7 linked regions of the Homo sapiens genome follow. The protein of the gene in region 2 purifies or fractionates together with the protein of the main gene of each other region. This does not show direct contact. Each region holds a gene or a part of one and is shown on either strand. Other genes may lie near its edges. The genes, in order: PIGQ, DPEP1, ABCB6, HPCAL1, TBL2, FLCN and ENDOD1.

Region 1 (3,500 bases), about 89 Mb from region 2:
GACCACCCAAGACGGTGCGTGGCCACACAGTCACCAAGAACATGCTCTGCATGGCAGCATCCAGCGGCTGCGGCAAGTGTGAGCAGCAGACGGGCCCGGGCAACTCTAGTCTCCGAGCCCGGGCACCTCTAGTCTCCGGGCCCGGGGCACCTCAAGTCTCCGGGCCCGGGGCACCTCTAGTCTCCGGGCCCGGGGCACCTCTAGTCTCCGGGCCCGGGGCACCTCAAGTCTCCGGGCCCGGGGCACCTCTAGTCTCCGGGCCCGGGGCACCTCAAGTCTCCGGGCCCGGGGCACCTCTAGTCTCCGGGCCCGGGGCACCTCTAGTCTCCGGGCCCGGGGCACCTCTAGTCTCCGGGCCCGGGGCACCTCTAGTCTCCGGGCCCGGGGCACCTCAAGTCTCCGGGCCCGGGGCACCTCTAGTCTCCGGGCCCGGGGCACCTCTAGTCTCCGGGCCCGGGGCACCTCTAGTCTCCGGGCCCGGGGCACCTCTAGTCTCCGGGCCCGGGGCATCTCTAGTCTCTGGGCCCGGGGCACCTCTAGGGCCTGTGCCTGCACCACCTTCGGGGCTGTGTGTCTGTCTCTTCTCTGTGGCCCAGGGAAGCTCTGCGCTGCTTCAGAGCCCCACGTGCAGCCCACACCGCAGACTTATCTATTCCCAGGGCCTGTGCGCGGCCTCAGCTGCAGGACGGGAGCAGGCTGCCCCCTTGTGGTGCCCAAGCACCGCGCTGGCCCAGCGGGCACAGGCCGGAGGCAGTCAGCCCCTCCAGCCACGAACCCTGCCCCATACCTGGTCCAGGTCATAGGAACAGGAGTCCACGCGCTGGCGCAGAACGTTCCACTTCTTCCCCCGGAACAGACGCCACAGTGAGGACAGGCCATGGATCTTCAGGCAGTACAGCCTACAGGACGCAGTGCTGTCGGGCCCGGCCCCGCCCCGCCCCGCCCCGCCCCCGCCCCACTCGAACGCCCGCCCAGCCGGAGCCTCTGCACCTCCCAGGGGGCGGTGGGGAGGGGGAAGCCCACGCCCACCTGGCTCCATAGACGTAAAAGCAGTAGATGTGGAAGGTGAGGAGGGCGATAATGTCCGAGAGGAGGGACAGGGCCACCGTCAGGCCCAGGCAGGCCGAGAGGCCCACGTGCCAAAGGATGTGCTCCACGAAGGGGGACATGAGGTGGATGTAGCCTGGCAGGGTGGGGTAGGCCCTCAGGAGGCGCTCAGACCCCAGCCCTCGGCCCAGCACAACCCTCACACACACAGGACATGAGGTGCGTGTAGCCTGGCAGGGTGGGGTCAGCCCTCGGGAGGTGCCCAGGCCCCAGCCCTCAGCTGAGCACAGCAGGCCTCACACACACAGGACGCTGGGGAGCAGAGTTGGGGGCACAGGGGGCGGGGTCTGGCTGGGTCCCTACCCTCTTCAGCAAGCTCTGGGGTCCCTGGGGCCCCCGCCTGCCCTGCACTCACTGATCCACAGGTGGATGTGGTAGAGGAAGAAGCGGCCCAGCACCTGGTCCAGTGCACGGTTCATCTTGAGCCCGGCGGGAGCACCCATCAGCCACTGCAGCAGATGCTGGAGCTCCTCGGCCACGTGCTGCAGGGACACAGGGGCCACGCTGGGGCGGGGGCAGCCAGGCTCAGCACCTGCATCTCCCCAGGCTCTTTCGTGATGGGCTCCCACCTTGGCCAGCCTTCCCTCCTCCAGGGTCTACCGCGTCCTAGCGTGGACAGCACACGGGCTCCCCTTCACAGATGGCTCCGGGATTGGGGTCTGAGGAGGCTGGTCTGGAGGCCTCTCTCTGCAGGCCTGGGTGACATGGCCGGGCCCACAGGGCATCCGCGTGGCCCCCTGCCTGCACCCACCTCTACCATCTTCCTCCCCTCTCACTACCTCGGCCACAGGACCCACTGGAGCCCTCGGCCCCAAACACGTGGACGCACTGAGGCCTGGCAGACCCTGATTCGGCTCCAGCCCTGCAGGGAAGCCCACAGCTGACACAGTCCCCTCCAGAGGCCCCACCCCATCGCAGAGGCTGGGGGCTGCCCGGGATGACCACAGGTGAGCGAGACAGTGCCAAGCCCATCAGGGCCACAGCGACCAGGCAGGAGGACAGGTCCCCAGAGGGAGGATGGCGTCAAGTTGAGGGCACAGGCACCCCCAAGAGCAAACAGGGAAGCAGGGTCTTGGCCGCCCAGGAAGAAACTCAGCATCCAGAGGCTGTGCCCCAGCGGGCAGACCCCAAGGGAGCCTCAGCCTCCCCACTAAGGAGACAGTGAGTGACACCTTGGCCCCCACTTGCCCATTGCGCAGGCCCCTTCCAAGCCTGGGCCAAGGCCTCAGCCACAGCAGGACTGGCAAGAAGGAGAAAAGAACACTTTTTTTTTTTTTTTTTTCTGAGACGGAGTCTTGTTTTGTCGCCCAGGCTGGAGTGCAGTGGTGAGATCTCGGCTCACTGCAAGCTCTGCCTCCCGGGTTCACGCCATTCTCTTGCCTCAGCCTCCCAATTAGCTGGGACTACAGGTGCCCACCACCATACCTGGCTAATTTTTTGTATTTTTAGTAGAGACGGGATTTCACTGTGTTAGCCAGGATGGTCTCGATCTCCTGACCTCATGATCCGCCCGCCTTGGCCTCCCAAAGTGCTGGGATTACAGGCATGAGCCACCACCCCCGGCTGAGAAAAGAACATTCTTTATAAATAGAGCTTATTTAATATTTAAAGGATAAGAGCTTGGCAGCAGGAAGAGACTTTCATTTTTAAATTAAATATTTATATTTCTGAGCACTTTTGCAAAAGGGAGGTCTAGGACAAAGTAGGCCGGTGGCAGGTGCGGACGACCACAGGCAAAGCTGCCGAGCCCCTTCCCCAGCCCCGCCCCTCCTTCCTTCTGGGCTGGAGCTCCCTGCACCCCCACAGCCACACAGACGTGCCTGATGCTGCCCCCAGAGGCCTGGCCTGGCCACAAGCAGGCCCAGTGCACACCTGCAGCCCACACAAGACCCACCCAGTCAGGCCTCAAGGAGGCCTCCACAGAGGCCCGAGGGTGGGCCAAAGAGTCAGGTACCACCCCCAGCAGGAAGACAAGCTCCTAATGGAAGAGACGGGGCTTTGGTGCTGAGGGAGGAAGACAGAGAAGCTGAAGGCCCAGAGGCAGCATGGAAATGCACTAGATCTGCAGAGGAGGGGGCTGCACCCGGCTGGAAACGGGGCACAGACCATGCAGGGAAGGTGGGAGATGGGAGACAAGCTGTGCCTCTGGCTCTCAGCACAGGAGTTACAGAATCAGCACAGGGGCAGGGCAGGAAGTCCCAGCTGGGCTGCACATGGGCCTCCCTGGACAGGAAAGGTTTCATGACCCTGGCTCTGCAGAGGGCCCCAGAGAGCCAGGAGGGCAACGCTGATCTCAGGGACCACAAGGGAGATACCAGGACGCTGGGCCCACAGGGAGAGGCGGGCTCCCCAGAGCCTCAGCCCGGCTGGCTCCTGCACACAGCCCCTTCAGA
Region 2 (3,500 bases):
GGGCGCCTGTAGTCCCAGCTTCTCTGGAGACTGAGGCAGGAGAATGGCATGAACCCGGGAGGCAGAGCTTGCAGTGAGCTGAGGTTGCGCCACTGCACTCCAGCCTGGGCAATAGAGTGAGACTCCGTCTCAAAAAAAAAAAAAAAAAGTCAGATGTGGGATCAGGCATGGTGGCTCACACCTGTAATCCCAGCACTGTGGGAGGCCGAGGAGGGCACATTATTTTAGGTCAGGAGTTCAAGACCAGCCTGACCAACATGATGAAACCCTGTCTCTACTAAAAATACAAAAAAAATTAGCTGGGTGTGGTGTGCGCCTGTAATCCCAGCTACTCCGGAGGCCGAGGCATGAGAATCAGTTGAGGCAGAGGTTGCCGTGAGCCGAGATTGTGCCACCGCACTCCAGCCTGGGTGACCTACTGAGACTCTGTCTCAGAGAGAGAGAGAGGAAGGAGGGGAGGGGAGAAGAGGGAAAGGAAGGGCAGGGGAACCCAGTCTTGGATATTTCTTCTTTTTTTTTTTTTTTTTTTTTTTTTTTGAAACGGAGTCTTGCTCTGCCACCCAGGCTGGAGTACAGTGTTGCAATCTCGGCTCACTGCAACCTCCGCCTCCCTGGTTCAAGTGATTCTCCTCCAAAAGCCTCCAAGTAGCTGGGATTACGGGCAAGGGCCACCATGCCCAGTAAATTTTTGTATTTTTAGTAGAGAAGGGGTTTCACCATGTTGGTCAGGCTGGTCTCAAACTCCTAACCTCGTGATCCTCCTGCCTTGGCCTCCCAAAGGGTATTTTTGTTTGTTTTTGAGACGGAGTCTCGCTCTTTCGCCCAGGCGGGAGTGCAGTGGTGCAATCTCGGCTCACTGCAAGCTCTGCCTCCCGGGTTCATGCCATTCTCCTGCCTCAGCCTCCCAAGTAGCTGGGACTCCAGGCACCCGCCACCATGCCCGGCTAATTTTTTTTATTTTTGGTAGAGACGGGGTTTCACCATGTTAGCCAGGATGGTCTCGATCTCCTGACCTGGTGATCCACCCGCCTCGGCCTCCCACAGTGCTGGGATTACAGGCGTGAGCCACCACACCCGGCCACAAAAGGTATTTCTTTCTTTCTTTCTTTTCTTTCTTTTTTTTTTTTTTTTGTGAGATAGAGATTTACTCTTGTCGCCCAGGCTGGAGTGCAATGGCGCGATCACAGCTCATGGCATCCTCCACCTCCCGGATTCAAGCGATTCTCCTGCCTCAGCCTCCCGAGTAGCTGGGATTACAGGCATGCACCACCATGCCTGGCTAATTTTTGTATTTTTAGTAGAGACGGGGTTTCACCATGTTGCCCAGGCTGATCTCGAACTCCTGACCTCAGGTGATCCGCCCGCCTCAGCCTCCCACAGTGCTGGGATTACAGGTGTGAGCCACCTTGCCCAGCCCCCAAAGGGTATTTCTTTATAGCAGTGTGAAAATGGACAAATACAGTGGCCTCAAGTTCTCTCCTTAGTGGCACCTGAGGGAGTGTGGTGCTCTTGGAAATGCTCTCCTGTCACTCAGTTTCTGCCTCTGAAGCGACAAGCAGAACATGGATGTTCTCAGAGTCCAGGGCTGTGTAGATAGTATTGGAGCTGAAGGCAAAAGGAAAAATCAGAATATTGGGCCTGTCTTTATTTTAAAGGTTTGTGGGGGAGGGGGGGCGGTTTGTGTTTTGTTTGTTTGTTTTTCTGAGATGGAGTCTTGATCTGTTGCCCAGGCTGAAGTGCAGTGGCATGATCTTGGCTCACAGCAACCTCCGCCTCCCGGGTTCAAGTGATTCTCCTGCCTCAGCCTCCTGAGTAGCTGGGACTACAGGTGCGCACCACCATGCCCAGCTAATTTTTGTCTTTTTAATACAGAGAGGGTTTCACCATATTGGCCAGGCTTGTCTTGAACTCCTGACCTCAAGTGATCCATCCGCTTCGGCCTCCCAAAGTGCTGGGATTATAGGCGTGAATGACTGTGCCCAGCTATTTTAAAGTTTTATACTTTGTTCATTATGGATTTTTTTTACATGAATTCTGATTTTTTTAAAATATTGAATGAAAATACGATTTATCATGACCTGGGCATGGTGGCTCATGCCTGTAATCCCCGCAGTTTGAGAGGCCAAAGCAGGCAGGTTTGCTTGAGGCCAGGAGTTCGAGACCAGCCTGGGAAACATGGGGAAGACCCCATCTCTACAAAAAATACAAAAATTAGCCAGACGTGGTGGTGCACGCCTGTGGTCCCAGCTACTCAGGAGGCTCAGGCAGGAGGGTTGCTTGGGCCCAGGAGGTGCAGGTTGCAGTGAGCCGAGAGGGAGCCACTGTCCTCCAGCTGGGGCGATCCTCCTTCCCTGCCGGGCTCCCCCCACCCCCCCCCGAAGCCTCTGACCAGTTTTCCCTCCTGCTCCTCCCAGCAGGCCTGGTTTAGCCCCAGTGCTCAGCCCACTGTCCCCCAGAACCCCAGACACCACCCAGCCCTGGGATTAAGATTCTTCCGTCAGGGCACCACCTGGGAACTGTGTGCCCAGGAGCCCTCGGGCGACTTGAATGTGCTCTGCTGAGTCCTAGAGAGGCCCCGGTTCTAAGGACGTGTCTAGCTGCTTGGCCTGAAGCTCTGTAGCTGGAGTGTGGGTCCCTGTGACGCTGGAGGGCTGCAGGCCGGGGGTGCGGACCCCTCAGCAACAGGGCAGGCGCCAGGGGCACACCTGGCTGTGCAGCAGCTTCCTGGAACGCCCTAATGTTTATCCCCCATGGCAAGTCACGTAAGATGATTTTTACGTGGAAAGGGGTGCTTTATGAGAATGCACTATTTGAATGACTGTTGTCTTGCTTGCAGATCTAGGCCCCCGGGTCCTGAGGGAGGTGGTAGTAATAACAGTAGCACAGCTAGAGCCAACAGCCACTCACCACTCATCTGGGCCTGCTCTCAGCCTGCTGTCCTTTCATCTGGGCTCTAGCTCCACCCCTGGGTCTGGGATCCCAGCTTCTTACTATGCCTCCGCCTAGCCCAGACAGCAACGCCCAGTCATTGAGTGTCCGGCCTTCCATCCTACCCACCCTGGTGGGGAATGTGCTGGTTACTTATTGAACATGGGAAGCTATAAACAGGAGAGCAGCCACCTGTCATCACTTCCACCCACACCTCTGGTGCCTCTCCTGGCAGGCAGAGTGGCTCCTCACAGCCTGAAGCTCATCCTTCTGCACGGGCCAGCCAGGCCAGCACAGAGGCACCAGGGCAGCAGTGCACACAGGTCCCCGGGGACCCCACCATGTGGAGCGGATGGTGGCTGTGGCCCCTTGTGGCCGTCTGCACTGCAGACTTCTTTCGGGACGAGGCAGAGAGGATCATGAGGGACTCCCCTGTCATTGATGGGTGAGTGCTCACCTGAGCCAGGTGCTTAGGGAACCAGGACTGGGAACTGGGGCTGGGAGAGCGGGGCTGGGGGAGCCGGGGCTGGGGGAGCGGGGCTGGGGGAGCCAGGGCTGGGGGTGCCGGGGCT
Region 3 (3,343 bases), on a different chromosome or scaffold from region 2:
CCGGAGAAGCAGGGATAGGGGCCCGTGGGAGGAAGAGAACAGACCCCGCCTGAGAAGCTGCCGCTCCCACCTTGGTGTTTTTTAAAGTATAGGATTATTGTATACATGCTCTCCTAATAACTTAGGTAATGCGGGCAGAGGGCAAATCTCTTTCGAGCTGCACTTACTTTTTCAGAGCTTCCCACTCTGTTTAGTATGTTGGGTTCTGCTCTTTTTTTGAGACAGGGTCACGCTCTGTCACCCAGGCTGGAGTACAGTGGCATAATCTCTGCTCACTGCAACCTCTGCCTCCCGGGTTCAAGCAATTCTCCTGCCTCAGCCTCCTGAGTAGCTGGGATTACAGATGTGCACCAGCATGCCTGGCTAATTATTAGATTTTTTGTAGAAACAGGGTTTCACCATGTTGGCCAGGCTGGCCTGGAACTCCTAGCATCATGTGATCTGCCCACCTAGCATTCCAAAGTGCTGGGATTACAGTTGTGAGCCATTGTGCCCAGCTGGGTTCTGCTTTTTTGCATTTTTACATACATATTATATATGCAGACTCACAGAACTAATATGGCATTGTGGAGGTTTTTCCTAAAACAAATGGTATTGTGACATAGCCATCATTCTCAGAGTTGCTTATTAACAGAACATTATGGAGATATATTTTTCTTCCATGCCTGAAGGTCTCCCTCATTCATTGTAATTGATACAGAGAATTCTGTAGTTTGAGCATGGTTGATTTAGCCACCCACCTCTTGAGGGTAGAATTAATTAAGACTGGTTCCAGTCTGTTGCTTGAAAATAAAACACTACCCTGAAATGCCTAGAGGCAGGGTTGCTGGGTCTAAGCCCCCAGACCTTTCTTATTCACTTGACCTGCCCTCCTAGCTACCTGGTGTTCAATGTCATCCCCACGCTGGCCGACATCATCATTGGCATCATCTACTTCAGCATGTTCTTCAACGCCTGGTTTGGCCTCATTGTGTTCCTGTGCATGAGTCTTTACCTCAGTGAGTGCTGCTGGGAGACACCGTCTCCCTGAACTATCCAGGGACTCCCTTGGCCATGAGCTGTGCCCCCACTCAAGTGACCCACCTATGGGAGGCTGTGGATTGGTGGACTTGAATGGGCTCCTAGTGCTCGTCATGTGATGGGCGGGTCTCTTCTGTCAAATCAAACCTTAACCTAGCTGAGGGGCTGGGGAAGGACATTCTTGTCACGTTAAGTCTGAGCCGTGGACACAGGTCAAGGAAGCCTCGTTTGTGTAACAAGATGCAGCTTGCTTTCATTTACCAAAAGCGTTTTCTACACATGAGACTTTGTGCAGGCTGCAGAGGTGCCTCCCTGTGGAATCTGGGTGTCCGGGCTTGAGCATAGGCTTAGTGTGTACATGGCAGGTAGTGGACATTGACATTTGGTCTCTGCTTTTGGGGATGATGTCCTATTCTGCTCCCCATCCTGTCACTCTCCAGCCCTGACCATTGTGGTCACTGAGTGGAGAACCAAGTTTCGTCGTGCTATGAACACACAGGAGAACGCTACCCGGGCACGAGCAGTGGACTCTCTGCTAAACTTCGAGACGGTAACAGAGGGCCCGGTGGCAGTGGTGTGAGGCGTGGAGATGTGGAGGAGTGTAACCAGGACCACTGGGGCTGACAGAGAGCTGGGGGTGTGATGTTTGTGTGTGATGTTTGAACTCAGGAAGGAGGATTGAGAGTTGGGGGGAATGACCCGAGTGCCATGTGCTGTGCCCATGCCAAATAAATTTGGTTTGAATTCATCAGGTGAAGTATTACAACGCCGAGAGTTACGAAGTGGAACGCTATCGAGAGGCCATCATCAAATATCAGGTGAGGATGCTAGTTTGAGGCCTCCGGAGAATAATGCCCTGGCCTGGTAGAATTTTCAGGGCCAAGAGTGATAGTCGAGTGTTGGGGTAGAAGGGGCCTGGGCCCAGGTTTGGACTCACTGATGGCCATTGTGTATAGGACATTCCTCTTCCTGTGTTATTGCCCTCAGGGTTTGGAGTGGAAGTCGAGCGCTTCACTGGTTTTACTAAATCAGACCCAGAACCTGGTGATTGGGCTCGGGCTCCTCGCCGGCTCCCTGCTTTGCGCATACTTTGTCACTGAGCAGAAGCTACAGGTGAGGCAGGATCTTGGATGAGAGAGTGGGGCACAAGGAAAAGGGGGCCTGAGGCCTGTGTCTGGTCACCAGGCTCTTCGGTAGGAAGTGGGCAGGGTGACACAAGAAGAGCGGCCTGCAGGCCCCCCGTGACATGCTCTGCTTCCTTGATTGCCACAGGTTGGGGACTATGTGCTCTTTGGCACCTACATTATCCAGCTGTACATGCCCCTCAATTGGTTTGGCACCTACTACAGGTAATCTGAGCCCTGGCCCTCACCTGTCCAGGGCACATTATTATTTCCTGGCTACTCAGAGAAGTCCTAACCAGCACCTTTTTGCAGGATGATCCAGACCAACTTCATTGACATGGAGAACATGTTTGACTTGCTGAAAGAGGAGACAGAAGTGAGCGAAGGGAGAGGAGTAGGGTTTGGGGAGGGAGGAGCTGTGTGGTGTTTCTCGTGCTTGGAAAACACAAAGCTGAGAACCTCAGCACACATGGGTGGTGCCCTTCCAGGTGAAGGACCTTCCTGGAGCAGGGCCCCTTCGCTTTCAGAAGGGCCGTATTGAGTTTGAGAACGTGCACTTCAGCTATGCCGATGGGTGAGGCCTTCCTTTTGCTTCCTTTGCTTTTCCGTTCATTTGCACACTGCCTTCCTGCTTCTCAGTGCTCTGAATCCCTGCTTTTGGAAAAGAGCCTGGGCAGGGGAGGGGCAGGGCCTACTAGCAGCTCTGGTGATGGAAGGTGCCTGCTGAGCAACCCCACCTTTCCTTGCAGGCGGGAGACTCTGCAGGACGTGTCTTTCACTGTGATGCCTGGACAGACACTTGCCCTGGTGAGAGGAGACCCAGCCACTTGGCCCAGATGCCTCAAGCTTCCCTCATTCAGTGCCCATGGTAGCTTGTGACCCAGGCTGTGGAGTCAGAGAGCCCAGTCACGATAGGCAACCGGATTGAATGGTGCAGCCTCCATGGACACTGGTGACCTCTTGGAGAGGGAACCTCAAAAGCCAGTGGGCCTCGGCCGGCTGCGGTGGCACATGCCTGTAATCCCAGCACTTTGGGAGGCTTAGGTGGCCAGATCACCTAAGGTTAGGAGTTCAAGACCAGCCTGACCAACATGGTGAAACCCTATCTCTACTAAAAATACAAAAATTAGCCGGGCATGGTGGCGGGTGCCTATAATCCCACTACTAGGGAGGCTGAGGCAAGAGAATCGCTTGAACCT
Region 4 (3,500 bases), on a different chromosome or scaffold from region 2:
TGATGACGATGATAGTGATGGTGATGGTGGTGGTGGTGATGATGATGGTGATAATGACAGTGATGACAGTGATGATGAATGGTGATGATGACGGTGATGGTGACGATGGTGACAATGATGATAATGACGATGATGGTGATGATGACAGTGATGGTGAATGGTGATGACAGCAATGATGGTGGTGATGGTGATGATGATGGGGATGGGGATGATAGTGATGATGATGATGATGATGGTGATGGAGAAAGGTGATGATGACAGTGATAATGATGGTGATGGTGATGGCAATGGTGGTGATGGTGATGATGATGACAGTGATGGTGATGATGATGAGGATGGGGATGACAGTGATGATGGTGATGGTGGTGGTGATGATGATGGTGATAATGACAGTGATGATAGTGACGGTGAATGGTGATGATGACAGTAATGATGATGGTGATGGTGATGATGGTGATAATGATGATAGTGATGATGATGGTGATGACGACATTGATGGTGAATGGTGATGATGACAGCAATGACGGTGGTGATGGTGATGATGATGGGGATGAGGATGATATGATGATGATGATGATGATATGATGATGATGATGATGGTGATGGAGAAAGGTGATGATGACAGTGATAATGGTGGTGATGGTGATGGTAATGATAGTGATGATGATGGTGATGACAGTGATGATGGATGTTGATGATGACAGTGATGATGATGGTGATGGTGATGATGGTGGGGATGATAGTGATGATGATGATGGTGATGGAGAATGGTGATGATGGTGAGGATGATAGTGATGATGGTGATGGAGAATGGTGATAATGATGGTGGTGATGGTGGGGATGATAGTGATGACGATGATGATGACAGTGATGATGAATGGTGACGATAACAGTGATGATGGCGATGGTGATGATGGTGGTGGTGATGGTGATGACAGTGATGATGATGGTGATGATGACAGTGATGATGAATGGTGATGAATGGAATGATGATGATGATAGCGACAGCAATGATGATGGTAATGATGATGATGGGGATGGGGATGATAGTGATGATGATGATGATGGTGATGGAGAAAAGTGATGATGTCAGTGATAATGATGGTGAGGTGATGGATATGATAGTGATAATGATAATGGTGATAATGGTTTTGGGGAGCCAGCAACTGGCCCAGCACAAACCACAGGGGGAAGGAGCTACAGGCCACAGTGAGCCCTTTACACTGCTTGGCGATCCCTGGCCCCAAAACCTGGAATTCCTTACCTGTGCTCTACATCTTCTCCCCCCACTCCCATCCACACTGTGAAAATAATTCTCAAATGCATAACCTTTCACCTTACAATGAGCTCTGAGAATAATCAGCCAGGCCGTATTGTTTTTAGATAAGGTAACAGCATATCACCAAGAACATGTGCTCATAAAAGCAGCAATTCTTTATCCCTGGATGTCTTCAGAAAGAAGAGGGGAAAGCACCTCCTAAGAAATAAGAATAAATTGTACCTGCCAGCATTCCAGCATGAAGGCAAGCAGGGCCTTAGCACCTGCCAGAGCCCTGCGTCTACCTTTACTCGCTGGGAAGAAAGACACAGAGAAGCCACGGCAGCCACATCTCATGTCCCACCCCTGGAGGCTAAGCCCCTGCCAGGCATCCAGGCTGCATCACCAGCACGGGCTCCAAACTGCATGACTGAAGAGTTTCTAATAAAGCACACCTCAACCACTGCTGAGGGATTGGGGGGCGGGGGGACAACCAGTTCTGCCACCCATGGCCCTATCTCAGCCCCTGAAGCTGGGGGCTTTTCTGGACCTCCTACATCCCACACTCATTCTGCCAGGAGTGTCTCCAGCCACACACAGTAAATACGGAAAACTGCATGATGTTAAAAATGATTTTTTTTCAACATAGGTGATCGATTTCGAGAGGTTCTCACTTCTCTCCAAAAATTGATTACAGGGCAGCAAATAGAAAAGATGGGAGTGAAAGGGAGGAGTTGGGGCTGTCATCAATTCTGCTTTCTGGAAACGTCTGTTAAATGCACAGAAAGAAGGCAGAGAGCTGAGCATTTTGCTGCTAGAGAAAAAGAGCGCTGCAGTCGATACACACTGCTGTACAGAACCGCAATTCTGCAAGTGTGCCCAGCAGTCCTCCTCCGGCCTGCCAGCACGAACACTCCCAGACCCGATCCATGCTCTGCACACACTCACAGAGGGAGGGGACCACCAGCTCCGGGCCTCGTTATGCCTGAGGAACAACCTGCAGCTCTCTCTGTGCAACCCCCACCACCAAGCTCAGGGTCTCTGTAGGTGCATCAGGGACCCTGACAGATGCTTCTCAGAAGGCATGAGGCTAGGACAATCCAAAATGGCAGCTCCCCAAACTCCAAGCAGTAACCAGCACTGGCTGCCTTCCGGAAGCCTCCACACGCACAGCAGTCACAGACTCCAGCATCAAATCCCTTGCTACGACAGCCTGGATCAAAACATGCCTCATAAGCCCGAATTTGAAAAGGAATTCTGTACTCAGTGGCAGAGGAGGCACTAGATCCAAGAATGCTTAAAGAGTAATGGCAGCCACCACCACTTATTCCACACGTGACCAGCCAGACTCACCTAGGTACTCACATCTGCGTCCCCATCTACGTCTGAGCTGCGCCTAGAACCCCTTTCTGCACATGACCAAACAGACTCAGAGAACATCACCAGCCAGTAAACAGAGCAAAGACTACAGTTCAAACCCAGTCTGCCACATCTGCAGACCTGGGTTTGAATTGTAGTTCCTGTCAATATCTGAGCTCAGCCTAAAACCCCTTTCTGCACCTGAGCAAACAGATTCAGAGACCATCACCAGCCAATAAACAACAGAGCAAAGACTACAATTCAAACCCCAGTGTCCCTGATCTTTCCAAGGTATTTTGCAAATGAGGTTCTAATACTCCGATTCAAGAATGTCTTGGTTCTTTCCACCATGATTTCTTTCATGGTTTCTGTCCACCATGAGAGTTCTCTACAACCATGGGAGAGAACGGTCATTTGTGATCTACCTGGCGTACAATGGGTATACAATTTCTGTGTCTTGGTTTGTGCATCTGTCAAATGGCATCTCATCCTCTGCTCTCTTCCTCAAAGAGTGAAAATGATCCAAGGTGAGAAATGCATCAGAAATGCACCAAGCCACCCAAGGCCACAGCACCACTGCATTCAACGCCCTCCCCCAGCCCCTTCTATTTACCAGGAGACCTCTCTACACACACACATTGCTTGAACCATCTCTACCTGTTCAGTTGTGGACTAGGTAGGTACTGGGGCAACACTGTGTGAACATGTGTCACACAGCACTCATGCCCTAGAAGGAGCTTCCATGGCTTAGGAAGGGATGACAAGACTCGTACAGGAAAATCTGAACACCAGCCCAGGCAAGGCCATAAAAGGGCATATCATTACTACCAAAACAAGGGCGGAAGAGAAAGTGACCTCGTTTAATTCTTGATCCTTCTACTTT
Region 5 (3,500 bases), on a different chromosome or scaffold from region 2:
ACCACAACAAAAAAGTTCTTTTATGTATGTGACCTCAGTTTATCTTCTAGCCTTGTTCTAAGATATGTAACATCCCCGCCCAAAGGTGGCTTGGCACAGTGGCTCACGCCTGTAATTCTACCACTTTGGGAGGTCGAGGCAAGAGGATCACTTGAGGCCAGGAGTTCAGGACCAGCCTGGGCAACATAGTAAGACCCCATCTCAACAAAAAATACAAAAATTAGCCAGGTGTGGTAGTGCACGCCTGTAGTCCCAGCTACTCGGGAGGCTAAGGTGGGAGGATGGTCTGAGCCTGGGAAGTCAAGGCTACAGTGAGCTGTGATTGCGCCACTGCACTCCTGCCTGGGCGAGGGTGAAACCGTCTCAACAAACAAACAAACAAAAAACAAAAATTAGCTGAGTACAGTGGCACATGCCTATAGTCCTGACTACTCAGGAGGCTGAGCTGGGAGAATAGCTACAACCCAGGAGTTTGAGGCTGCAGTGAGCTATGATCGCACCACTGTGCTCCAGCCTGGGTGACAGAGTGAGACTAATTTTCTAAAAAACAAAAACACTGAAGATGAAGAAATAGCGACTAAGGACATGGGGCGACCTGCATGAAATCCCACTACTGCAAGTGGGGAGAGCTGAGACTTGAAGCTCGGGTTCCTGACCCCACCCCGTATGCTCTTCCCACGCGATGAAGCTGGCTCTCTGTTCTGTGCCTGCTCCCCAGCCCCAGCCTCTCGTGGTCCCAGACGCCAATACCCCTCCTTGCCCACCTGCCACAGGGAGATACAGCAGCGTGTGTGTTGTTCATCTGGTTGGTGTTGATGGTAGACAGCACTTGACCCTTCAGGCTCCAGATGAGGACAGTGGTGTCACTGGAGGCAGTCATGATAAACTTCCCTGAGCGGGAAGGGAGTGATGTGGGTCACGGGCAGTGACCTGACCAACTGTCACTCTCCAAAGACACTTACAAGGCCTCTGCTGCCCGAAGTATACATGTCTCCTCCCAGGCCAAGGGTCACTACAGATAAGGACTCTGCTGAAGACTGTGGCCCTTCCCCACCTTCCCTAGGGACCTGGTGTGGCCCAGGGACTCCAGGGGAGCACAGAGCCAGGCTGTTCAGAGCCAGGGACCCCTTGTTCCTCTCAGGTTGAGCAGAACTTTCAGGCAGCATTAACTCATTGAGGAAATAGAACTGGATCTTTCCTTCATGCTTTGGGCAGGCGCCACCCTCTGAATGCCTCTTACCTGTGTTAGCAATGCCAATGTCGATGACAGGCGCCTTGTGCTTTTTAGGGAAGTCCTCTGGGGTGGCTGTGAAGGTGTAGCCCCCATCCTCCCGCTTGGTCATCTTGAAGACACGGAGGGTGTCCCCGTTGGCCAGCCAGACGATGAAGGCTCTAGAGACAGGCAGCAGACAAGTCACGCTCTCACTGGACAAAGAGGCTCTGTGTTCCAGGTCCTGTGCTGGGTTCTCGGGGAAGTCAAGATCTCTCCTCATGCCCCACAGTCTAGCCTTAAAACTTAAGCCCCTGGTTCCAAATCTCATAAAACTCCTCAAAAGGTAAGATTCTGATAGCTTTGGCTCCTTTAGTTTCTCTCTAGGGTTTAGAAACTAAGGCTCATCTGGAAGCCAGGCCAAGGTATTTCCAGGTAGGAAGAGACCTCCCCCTGTTTCCTTGCTGTATAGCAGCCCAGATCTCCAGGGAGCCCCAGGCAGCGCGCAAACTATGTGGATGCTCTTTCTGGCACCCCAAGGGAGGCCCTGGGTCCAGGTCCCTCCTCACTACCTCAAAGCAGATATGGGAAGGCCAAAGCCTGGGACTAGGCCTCTGCAGGCAAACCTGAGGCTCCGTCTTGTCCCACCTGCAGTCAGGGCTGAAGCGCACCAGGGTGGCGTGGTCCAGCTCCACGTTGGCTCTCATGCTGCGGTGCTCTCGCTGCAGGAAGTCCTTGGTGCTCCAGATGCGGATGGTGCGATCATCTGCACAGGTAGCCAGGTATTTGCCATTGCTGCTAAAGTCCATGCAAGATATGTTCCCGCTGTGGCTCTAGGGGAAGGGTGGCAGGAAGTGTCAATAGGAGCTCCTGGGGGAGATGGGGAAGCCAAACCTGGAGCCGGGGAGATGGGGCCCTGTGGCCTGGATTAACAGCAAGCTGAGATTGGGCTGCGATGAGAGGGGACAGAATTAAGCACCCCCGCTGATTCTGATCAGAGGCAGGAGAGCCTGTAACATGCATGGAATACTCCAGAGGAAAAGCCTGTGGGGCTGAGTCTCAGGGTGCACGCTGTGCCAGGTACCCCACGTACCTTCAGAGCTGCAGCCAGGAGGCGGTGGGTGAAGTTGTGTTGTTGAGGCTTCTCCTTCCGAATCCGCTGATATTGTTTCTGCTTCTTGGATCCCGAAGATTTGTCAGGTGGAAATCCATTTGCTTTTTGGCCTATAAGGAAGGGCCATGTTGTTCTCCAGTTACTCACTGATAAGCATTTACTGCCCACCTATGATGAGCCAGGCATTGAGTGGAACAGCAGGAGATTAACCAGATATGGCCCTTGTCTTCTGGAGGAGAATGAGTGTGATATGGGCAAAAACAGAGGCTTTGGCTGGCTGGGTATGGTGGCTCATGCCTGTAATCCCAATGCTTTGGATCATTTGAGCCCAGGAGTTCGAGGCTGCAGTAAGCTATGATCACAACACTACTGCATTCCATCCTGAGTGACAGAGCAAGACCCTGTCTCAAAAAAAAACAAACAGAAAACAGAAACAAAACAGAGGCTTTGGAATCAGACCTGGGTTTGGATTCTGTCTCTACTACTGACTGACTACTGAGGAGGCTGTTTACAGTAAGTCCACAGAGCACCTTCATGTAGAGTGGAAAAGGCGCACTCTCTGGGTTGGGTGATGCTGCTGGGCGGGTACACAGCACGGCCAGTGGAGTGTGGATCCTTGGCCAGACATCCCTATGTAGGGAGTAATGTGCACAACCATCTCTAGCGGCCCTGCTTTGGGTAAGTTAGTGAATTGCTCTGGACCTTGGTTTTTTTTTTCTTTTCTTTCTTTCTTTTTTTTGGAGACAGAGTCTTGCTCTGTCGCCCAGGCTGGAGTGCAGTGGCGTGATCTCCGCTCACTGTAGCCTCTGCCTCCCAGGTTCAAGCAATTCTTGTGCCTCAGCCTTCCAAGTAGCTGGGATCATGGGCGTGCACCACCATATCCAGCTAATTTTTTTTTTTTTTTTCAGATGGAGTCTCGCTCTGTCACCCAGGCTGGAGTGCAGTGGCGTGATCTCAGCTCACTGCAAGCTCTGCCTCCCGGGTTCACGCCATTCTCCTGCCTCAGCCTCCCAAGTAGCTGGGACTACAGGCGCCCGCCACCATGCCCGGCTAATTTTTTTTTGTATTTTTAGTAGATGTGGGGTTTCACCACATTAGCCAGAATGGTCTCAATCTCCTGACCTTGTGATCCACCCGCCTCGGCCTCCCAAAGTGCTAGGATTACAGGCGTGAGCC
Region 6 (3,500 bases), on a different chromosome or scaffold from region 2:
CAGACCCCTGGTGTCTTTGTTTCCTCTGGCCTTCATCTCAGGGATGTCTGTTAATCCCATTGAGTTGCACCACCGAATGTAGGCCTCCAGCTGTGGAGATGCAGCTCAGGCCAGGCCAGGCCAGGTCGTGCTCTGGTAACAGCCTCGGATCTCAGCACCTTCAAGCCATAGGGCCTGTTTCTTACTCATGGTGTGTGCATTGCAGGAGAGTGGGGCTCTGCTTGCTGTGGTCGTCCTGGCAGGCAGAGCGGCAGCCATATGAAAATGCTTCCCCTAGGCTGGGCGCAGTGGCTCACGCCTGTAATCCCAGCACTTTGGGAGGCCAAGGCGGGCAGATCACCTGAGGTCGGGAGTTTGAGACCAGCTTGACCAACATGGAGAAACCCCGTCTCTTCCAGAAATACAAAATTAGCTGGGCATGGTGGTGCATGCCTGTAATCCCAGCTACTTGGGAGGCTGAGGCAGGAGAAACGCTTGAACCCATGAGGCAGAGGTTGTAGTGAGCCGAGATCACACCATTGCACTCCAGCCTGGGCGACAGAGTGAGACTCCATCTCAAAAAAAAAAAGAAAGGAAAAAATGTTGCTCCTTCTGCCCTCCAGAAGCACAGATGGTGCTGAGGGCCTTGTTTGTCTCAGCTCATTGACCAGAGCCAGTCACGTGTGCCTTAGCCAAGTAGTGCACCCAGAAGGGGAGGTGGAGACAGGTGGGGAGCAGCGCAGATGGCCACTCACGAGAATCCCCCTGGGTGCCTTGGGTCACTCATTAGGAAGGGGACAGGAGAAGCTCAACCGATTTCTGTTCTCGGATAGCTCCTGATGTAGCCGGGGCAGAGCTATGCTGTTGGGAATGATTGGACTGGTGGCACTTTGTGTGCTCTGCATGGAGAGAGTATAGTGGGACTGATCCTCCAGGAGTCAGGTCCTGGAGTTGGCTGTGAACGAGTAGGGGTCCGAGCTGCTGGCAGCTTTGGCTTAAAGAGGCCATCCCTTCCCTTTGCATTTCAGGTGTTTGAGGCAGAGCAGTTTGGATGCCCACAGCGTGCTCAGAGGATGAACACAGCCTTCACGCCATTCCTACACCAGAGGAACGGCAACGCCGCCCGCTCGCTGACATCGCTGACAAGTGATGACAACCTGTGGGCGTGCCTGCACACCTCCTTTGCCTGGTAACGGGCGTCTCTGCTTTTGGCATATCTGTTAGGATAGAGCAGTCACGATACATTGGTTGGCTTGTCCATGGATTTGGGAGAACAGTCCTTAGCCGTGTTTGCTTGCTGCCTCTGTGAGGAGCACTGGCCTGTGGGCACTTGTCAGTGAGCACAGATCTGGGCTGGGAGTCCTTGTTCTGTAGGCCTCTTCCCCTGAGTGTGCTGAAAACATATTGATGTGGAACTCACTTCTTCCTGGGTTCAAGTGATTCTCCTGCCCCAGCCTCCCAAGTAGCTGGGATTACAGGCGCCTGTCACCACACCCAGCTAATTTTTTTATTTTTGGTAGAGACGGGGTTTCACCATGTTGGCCAGGCTGTTCTCAAACTCCTGACCTCATGTGATCCACCTGCCTCAGCCTCCCAGAGTGCTGGGATTACAGGTGTGAGCCACCGCGCCCAGCCTTTTTTTTTTTTTTTAAAGCAAATCTGAGTCGTATCATTCCAGCCATAAATATAATCACAATACTGTGATCATGTCCGACAAAACGGACAGACTCCTGAGTGTTCTCCAGGCTGCAAGCCCTTGTGCAGTTTACCTTTTGTCTCACAAGTGACTGCATTGGCATCGGAGCAGCGCCCCAAGTCTCTCTGGTTTAGAACAGCTCCCCCTTGCATCCCCTCCCCTCCAAGTTCCTCCCATCCATCTATTGAAGGACCTTGGTCGTTGACTTGTGGAACTGCCTGCATGCGGGATCTGGCTGGTTGTGCCCTGCTGGTGTTCTTTTATACCCATTTTTTCTTTAAACTGGTAGGATCAGGGGCTGGGTGAGCGTCAGGTTTGCTTTTTCCTTTGGCGAGAACGCTCATAGCTGGTGCTGTGTTCTCCAGGCTCCTGAAGGCGTGTGGCAGCCGGCTGACCGAGAAGCTCCTGGAAGGTGCTCCGACCGAGGATACCTTGGTCCAGATGGAGAAGCTCGCTGGTGAGGCAGGGGTGCTGTTGCCGGGGCCTTGGCCCGGATGGCCGTGGGGCGGTACCAGCTGTCTGCTCTCCTGGCAGGAATCGCTGAGGGAGGGAAACGCGGCTCTGAATCAGCCCAGAACGAGCCTTCGGGAAGCTCACCCTCCGATCTCGGTGTGATTGTTGTGATTGTTGTGATTTCCTGTCTCGTTTGCCTTGACCGCCATGTGAAAGAATCTGTTCCCCAGCTAGGTGGGGAAAATTCACAGGTGGGCTGTCTGTAGAGAGAACTGGCTGATTAAAGGCTTCTCGTCCCGATTTTGTGATAGCCAAGTGCTTGGCCTGGTCGACGGTCTTTGCTCCTTTACAAATAAAGTGTTCTGTTTCAGTTCGTCCCAAGTTTTCCATGAAGGGCAGTGGTTCCCTGACCTCCCAGGTGCCTGGGCTTCCCCAGGTTCCTGATCTGGGGCTTGGGGCCCTGTGTTTGGGGATCGTGGCACTGTGTGCACCAGCCTGGAAGCACTGGGCCAGTCTTGGCCAAGCTTTCCATCAGGGATGATTTGATCTTGGTGCTACAGGTCTGTGGTACGACCATTGTTCCACACCACATGTCATTAATAATGCTTCCCATGCTTCTGCTTGCAAATGACCAGCCTTCCAAACAGCCAGAGCTGTTTCGAGGTGTTTCTGCAGGCAGGTGCAGGCGTGCCCTCAAATAAGCTTTGCCAATGGAGTCTCAGCAAGAGCAAAACCTGGTCAGGAAAGACAAAGCCTGGGAATCCACCCCCATGCCCTGCAGGTTGGCTGGCCCTGGAGCCATTTATTATAGTGCTAATCATGTTTCTAGGCAGGTGCAGATGGCAAGGGCAGTGTCTTGGTGAGCTTTTTAGCACGAAGAGCCAGGTCTGTCGAAGCCTTTGTGAGAGCTGGAAACGCAGGTGTGCTGGGCATGCGCAGTATGGGGTTTCGGGCTCAGGGCTTGCCCTTTGGCATCAGACAGACCTGGCTTCGCATCCTGGATTTGCTTCTGACGTGCACCCTTCCCTTTGGGTCTCGTGATGTGAAATGGAGATGTTGTCATTTGTGAGGGCTCCATGAAGTTTCGTTGAAATGACAAATACTAATTTCTTCATCTGTGAAATGGAGATAATAGTGCTGACCTCAGAACAGCTGAGAGGACTAAATGAAATGATGTTGGATGTAGCCATAAAGAACGAAGTCAGGCACTGGTGCACGCCTGGAATCCCAGCTCTTGGGAGACCGAGACAGGTGGATTGCTTGAGCTCAGGAGTTTGAGACCAGCCTGAGCAACATAGGGAGGTCCAGTCTCTACAAAAAATATGAAAAGTAGCTGGGCGTGGTGGCGCATGCCTGTAGTCCCACTACTTGG
Region 7 (2,650 bases), on a different chromosome or scaffold from region 2:
GCCTCCCCGGTTCAAGTGATTCTCCTGCCTCAGCCTCCCATGTAGCTGGGATTACAGGCACCCATCACCACATCTAGCTAATTTTTGTATTTTTAGTAGAGATAGGATTTCAGCATGTTGGCCAGGCTGGTCTTGAACTCCTGACCTCAGATGATCCACCCGCCTCAGCCTCCCAAAGTGCTAGGATTATAGGCGTGAGCCACCGCACCTGGCCCCAGACTACAACAGATTTTAAAAAGAACATCACGATGGTGGGTGTGAGTGTGAGTGAAGGGGTGTTACTGTAGAGCAGGGTGGGATAAACACAGGTAATAGACTAGGAAACAGCCTATCTGAAAGATGCTTTGAAACACCAGGATTTTGGTATATCAGAATGAAGTGTCCATGTGCCAGAGAACCAAGTCCTTCCAAACTCAAGCGTTTGAAGTAATAGACCAGTGGGGACTTCTCCAGAGTCTGGGCAGGATGATTCTAGTGCTGCCTCTGTGCTGTAAGCAGGGATGCATCTCACCACTTGTTTTCTTCTTGCAGATCGATGACCCCAACAGCAACCTTGAGGAGGCGATTAATGAGGCAGAGGCCATCACCTCTGTGAACAGCCTGGGAAGCAAGCAAGCCTTGAATACAGATTACCTTGATTCTGATTACCAAAGAGGACAGCTTTACCCATTCTCCCTTAGCAGTGATGTCCAGGTGGCCACATTTACTCTCACAAATTCAGCCCCAATGACTCAGTCCTTCCAGGAACGGTGGTATGTGAATCTCCACAGCCTAATGGACCGGGCTTTGACCCCACAGTGTGGCAGTGGGGAAGACCTATATATCCTCACAGGCACAGTGCCCTCAGACTACAGAGTTAAAGACAAAGTGGCAGTCCCTGAGTTTGTTTGGCTGGCAGCCTGTTGTGCTGTCCCTGGAGGAGGCTGGGCCATGGGCTTTGTCAAGCACACCCGGGACAGTGACATCATAGAAGATGTGATGGTAAAAGATCTTCAGAAACTGCTTCCATTTAACCCTCAGCTGTTTCAGAACAACTGTGGTGAAACTGAGCAAGACACAGAGAAAATGAAAAAAATCCTGGAAGTGGTTAACCAAATCCAGGATGAAGAACGAATGGTACAATCTCAAAAGAGTTCTAGTCCCCTTTCTAGCACCAGGAGCAAGAGGTCTACTCTGTTGCCTCCAGAGGCATCTGAGGGAAGTAGTAGCTTTTTGGGAAAACTCATGGGCTTCATTGCTACCCCATTCATCAAGCTTTTTCAATTAATTTATTACCTTGTGGTAGCAATCCTGAAGAACATTGTCTATTTCCTGTGGTGTGTTACCAAGCAGGTGATTAATGGCATAGAAAGTTGCCTTTACCGCCTGGGCTCAGCCACCATCTCATACTTCATGGCCATTGGGGAAGAGTTGGTGAGCATTCCCTGGAAGGTGCTCAAGGTCGTGGCCAAAGTCATCAGGGCTCTCCTCCGGATCCTTTGTTGTCTGCTGAAGGCCATTTGCCGAGTTCTGAGCATCCCTGTCCGTGTCCTTGTGGATGTGGCCACTTTCCCTGTGTACACCATGGGCGCTATTCCAATTGTTTGCAAGGACATTGCACTGGGCCTTGGTGGCACTGTCTCACTGCTCTTTGACACTGCTTTTGGTACCCTGGGTGGCCTATTTCAGGTGGTTTTTAGTGTCTGCAAGCGGATTGGCTACAAGGTTACTTTTGACAATTCTGGGGAGTTATAAACTCAAAAAACTAATAGTATCCAGTCACAGTGAATTTGAAAGCTGGAATAGTTTGTCTTTACAATGGGTTTCTGTTCACTGTCAGTTATCATTATATTTTGGCCTTTGGTGGGGATGTCTGCTTGTTTTTGCAAAAGAAGATGGCAGAATTTAGACTTGACAGAGGAGAAATGCTCAGGGTGAGATTAGGTGTAGTAATCTGCTGTTTACCTCCAGTTATATGTGCAAACTCCCAAGCCACTAATAACTTCAGTTATGCACTCTAACACAGACGACCACCTGAAATGCACTGGTATTTATTTCTGATAATTAAAAATTACAGGGGAGGGAAGAACTAGAAAAAGAACAACTTTAGACCAAAGGTGTCTGAGAAAAGGAGAAAGGGAGCTTGTTCTTCCCATTGCTCTTTGTGATTTAAGGCAAAACAGATTAAAAAAAAAATCTGCAGCCAATTTCTTGGCATTTGCTTCTCTTTCTCCTCAACTCGACTGACCTTGGTGGAATGCAGATAATGCCTCTTTGTTGAAATAACTTTGTGGGAATGTACAATTTTCTATATCTCTTAGCTTTCCGTGGTTCTCAAGGATATGTACAGTTTTCATTTTCCTCCAAAGTTGAATTTTGCTACATTTTTCTTTTAGGTAATGATAAGCATTTTTTAAAAAATCATTTTTAGGTAATGGTAAGCATTTTATGCCAAATGTGGCATAACAGAGTTTGAATTGAAGGGCAAAGTTTTCTTTTCTTTTTTTTTTGGGCCCCTTGAATGGTATAATACAGTCCTCTCCGGTGGAAAGAAGAGAAGAGAAGGTGGACAGCCCTGCTCTTAGTAGGTGCTGCAGATCCAAGGACATCTTTTGTCCAGCTTGGATTAACTTGACGTGTATCCCTGCCTGACAAGGTTGAACTGAAAGAT

Evidence for each region.
Region 1: the proteins of DPEP1 (region 2) and PIGQ purify together in Homo sapiens (affinity purification with mass spectrometry; 2 studies listed by BioGRID and IntAct, with this or other methods). This does not show direct contact.
Region 3: the proteins of DPEP1 (region 2) and ABCB6 purify together in Homo sapiens (affinity purification with mass spectrometry; 2 studies listed by BioGRID and IntAct, with this or other methods). This does not show direct contact.
Region 4: the proteins of DPEP1 (region 2) and HPCAL1 purify together in Homo sapiens (affinity purification with mass spectrometry; 2 studies listed by BioGRID and IntAct, with this or other methods). This does not show direct contact.
Region 5: the proteins of DPEP1 (region 2) and TBL2 purify together in Homo sapiens (affinity purification with mass spectrometry; 2 studies listed by BioGRID and IntAct, with this or other methods). This does not show direct contact.
Region 6: the proteins of DPEP1 (region 2) and FLCN purify together in Homo sapiens (affinity purification with mass spectrometry; 2 studies listed by BioGRID and IntAct, with this or other methods). This does not show direct contact.
Region 7: the proteins of DPEP1 (region 2) and ENDOD1 purify together in Homo sapiens (affinity purification with mass spectrometry; 2 studies listed by BioGRID and IntAct, with this or other methods). This does not show direct contact.

The regions. Positions count from the first base shown.
Region 1 is NC_000016.10:576,468-579,967, reverse strand, and holds part of PIGQ (phosphatidylinositol N-acetylglucosaminyltransferase subunit Q), read right to left. Parts: intron 1,590-3,500; coding exon 1,463-1,589; intron 1,184-1,462; coding exon 1,030-1,183; intron 900-1,029; coding exon 788-899; intron 1-787. UniProt on the Homo sapiens protein: Part of the glycosylphosphatidylinositol-N-acetylglucosaminyltransferase (GPI-GnT) complex that catalyzes the transfer of N-acetylglucosamine from UDP-N-acetylglucosamine to phosphatidylinositol and participates in the first step of GPI biosynthesis.
Region 2 is NC_000016.10:89,627,142-89,630,641, forward strand, and holds part of DPEP1 (dipeptidase 1 isoform a precursor), read left to right. Parts: intron 1-1,813; exon of another isoform or gene 1,814-1,828; intron 1,829-3,128; exon of another isoform or gene 3,129-3,163; 5' UTR 3,164-3,269; coding exon 3,270-3,373; intron 3,374-3,500. UniProt on the Homo sapiens protein: Hydrolyzes a wide range of dipeptides including the conversion of leukotriene D4 to leukotriene E4. Hydrolyzes cystinyl-bis-glycine (cys-bis-gly) formed during glutathione degradation.
Region 3 is NC_000002.12:219,212,616-219,215,958, reverse strand, and holds part of ABCB6 (ATP-binding cassette sub-family B member 6), read left to right. Parts: intron 1-876; coding exon 877-998; intron 999-1,460; coding exon 1,461-1,570; intron 1,571-1,772; coding exon 1,773-1,838; intron 1,839-2,007; coding exon 2,008-2,133; intron 2,134-2,292; coding exon 2,293-2,369; intron 2,370-2,456; coding exon 2,457-2,520; intron 2,521-2,632; coding exon 2,633-2,718; intron 2,719-2,893; coding exon 2,894-2,951; intron 2,952-3,343. UniProt on the Homo sapiens protein: ATP-dependent transporter that catalyzes the transport of a broad-spectrum of porphyrins from the cytoplasm to the extracellular space through the plasma membrane or into the vesicle lumen.
Region 4 is NC_000002.12:10,309,404-10,312,903, reverse strand, and holds part of HPCAL1 (hippocalcin-like protein 1), read right to left. Parts: intron 1,202-3,500; exon of another isoform or gene 1-1,201. UniProt on the Homo sapiens protein: May be involved in the calcium-dependent regulation of rhodopsin phosphorylation.
Region 5 is NC_000007.14:73,572,080-73,575,579, forward strand, and holds part of TBL2 (transducin beta-like protein 2), read right to left. Parts: intron 2,435-3,500; coding exon 2,304-2,434; intron 2,044-2,303; coding exon 1,859-2,043; intron 1,393-1,858; coding exon 1,241-1,392; intron 892-1,240; coding exon 765-891; intron 1-764.
Region 6 is NC_000017.11:17,220,169-17,223,668, reverse strand, and holds part of FLCN (folliculin), read left to right. Parts: intron 1-1,007; coding exon 1,008-1,168; intron 1,169-2,040; coding exon 2,041-2,132; coding exon of another isoform or gene 2,133-2,290; exon of another isoform or gene 2,291-3,500. UniProt on the Homo sapiens protein: Multi-functional protein, involved in both the cellular response to amino acid availability and in the regulation of glycolysis.
Region 7 is NC_000011.10:95,127,846-95,130,495, forward strand, and holds part of ENDOD1 (endonuclease domain-containing 1 protein precursor), read left to right. Parts: intron 1-531; coding exon 532-1,734; 3' UTR 1,735-2,650. UniProt on the Homo sapiens protein: May act as a DNase and a RNase. Plays a role in the modulation of innate immune signaling through the cGAS-STING pathway by interacting with RNF26.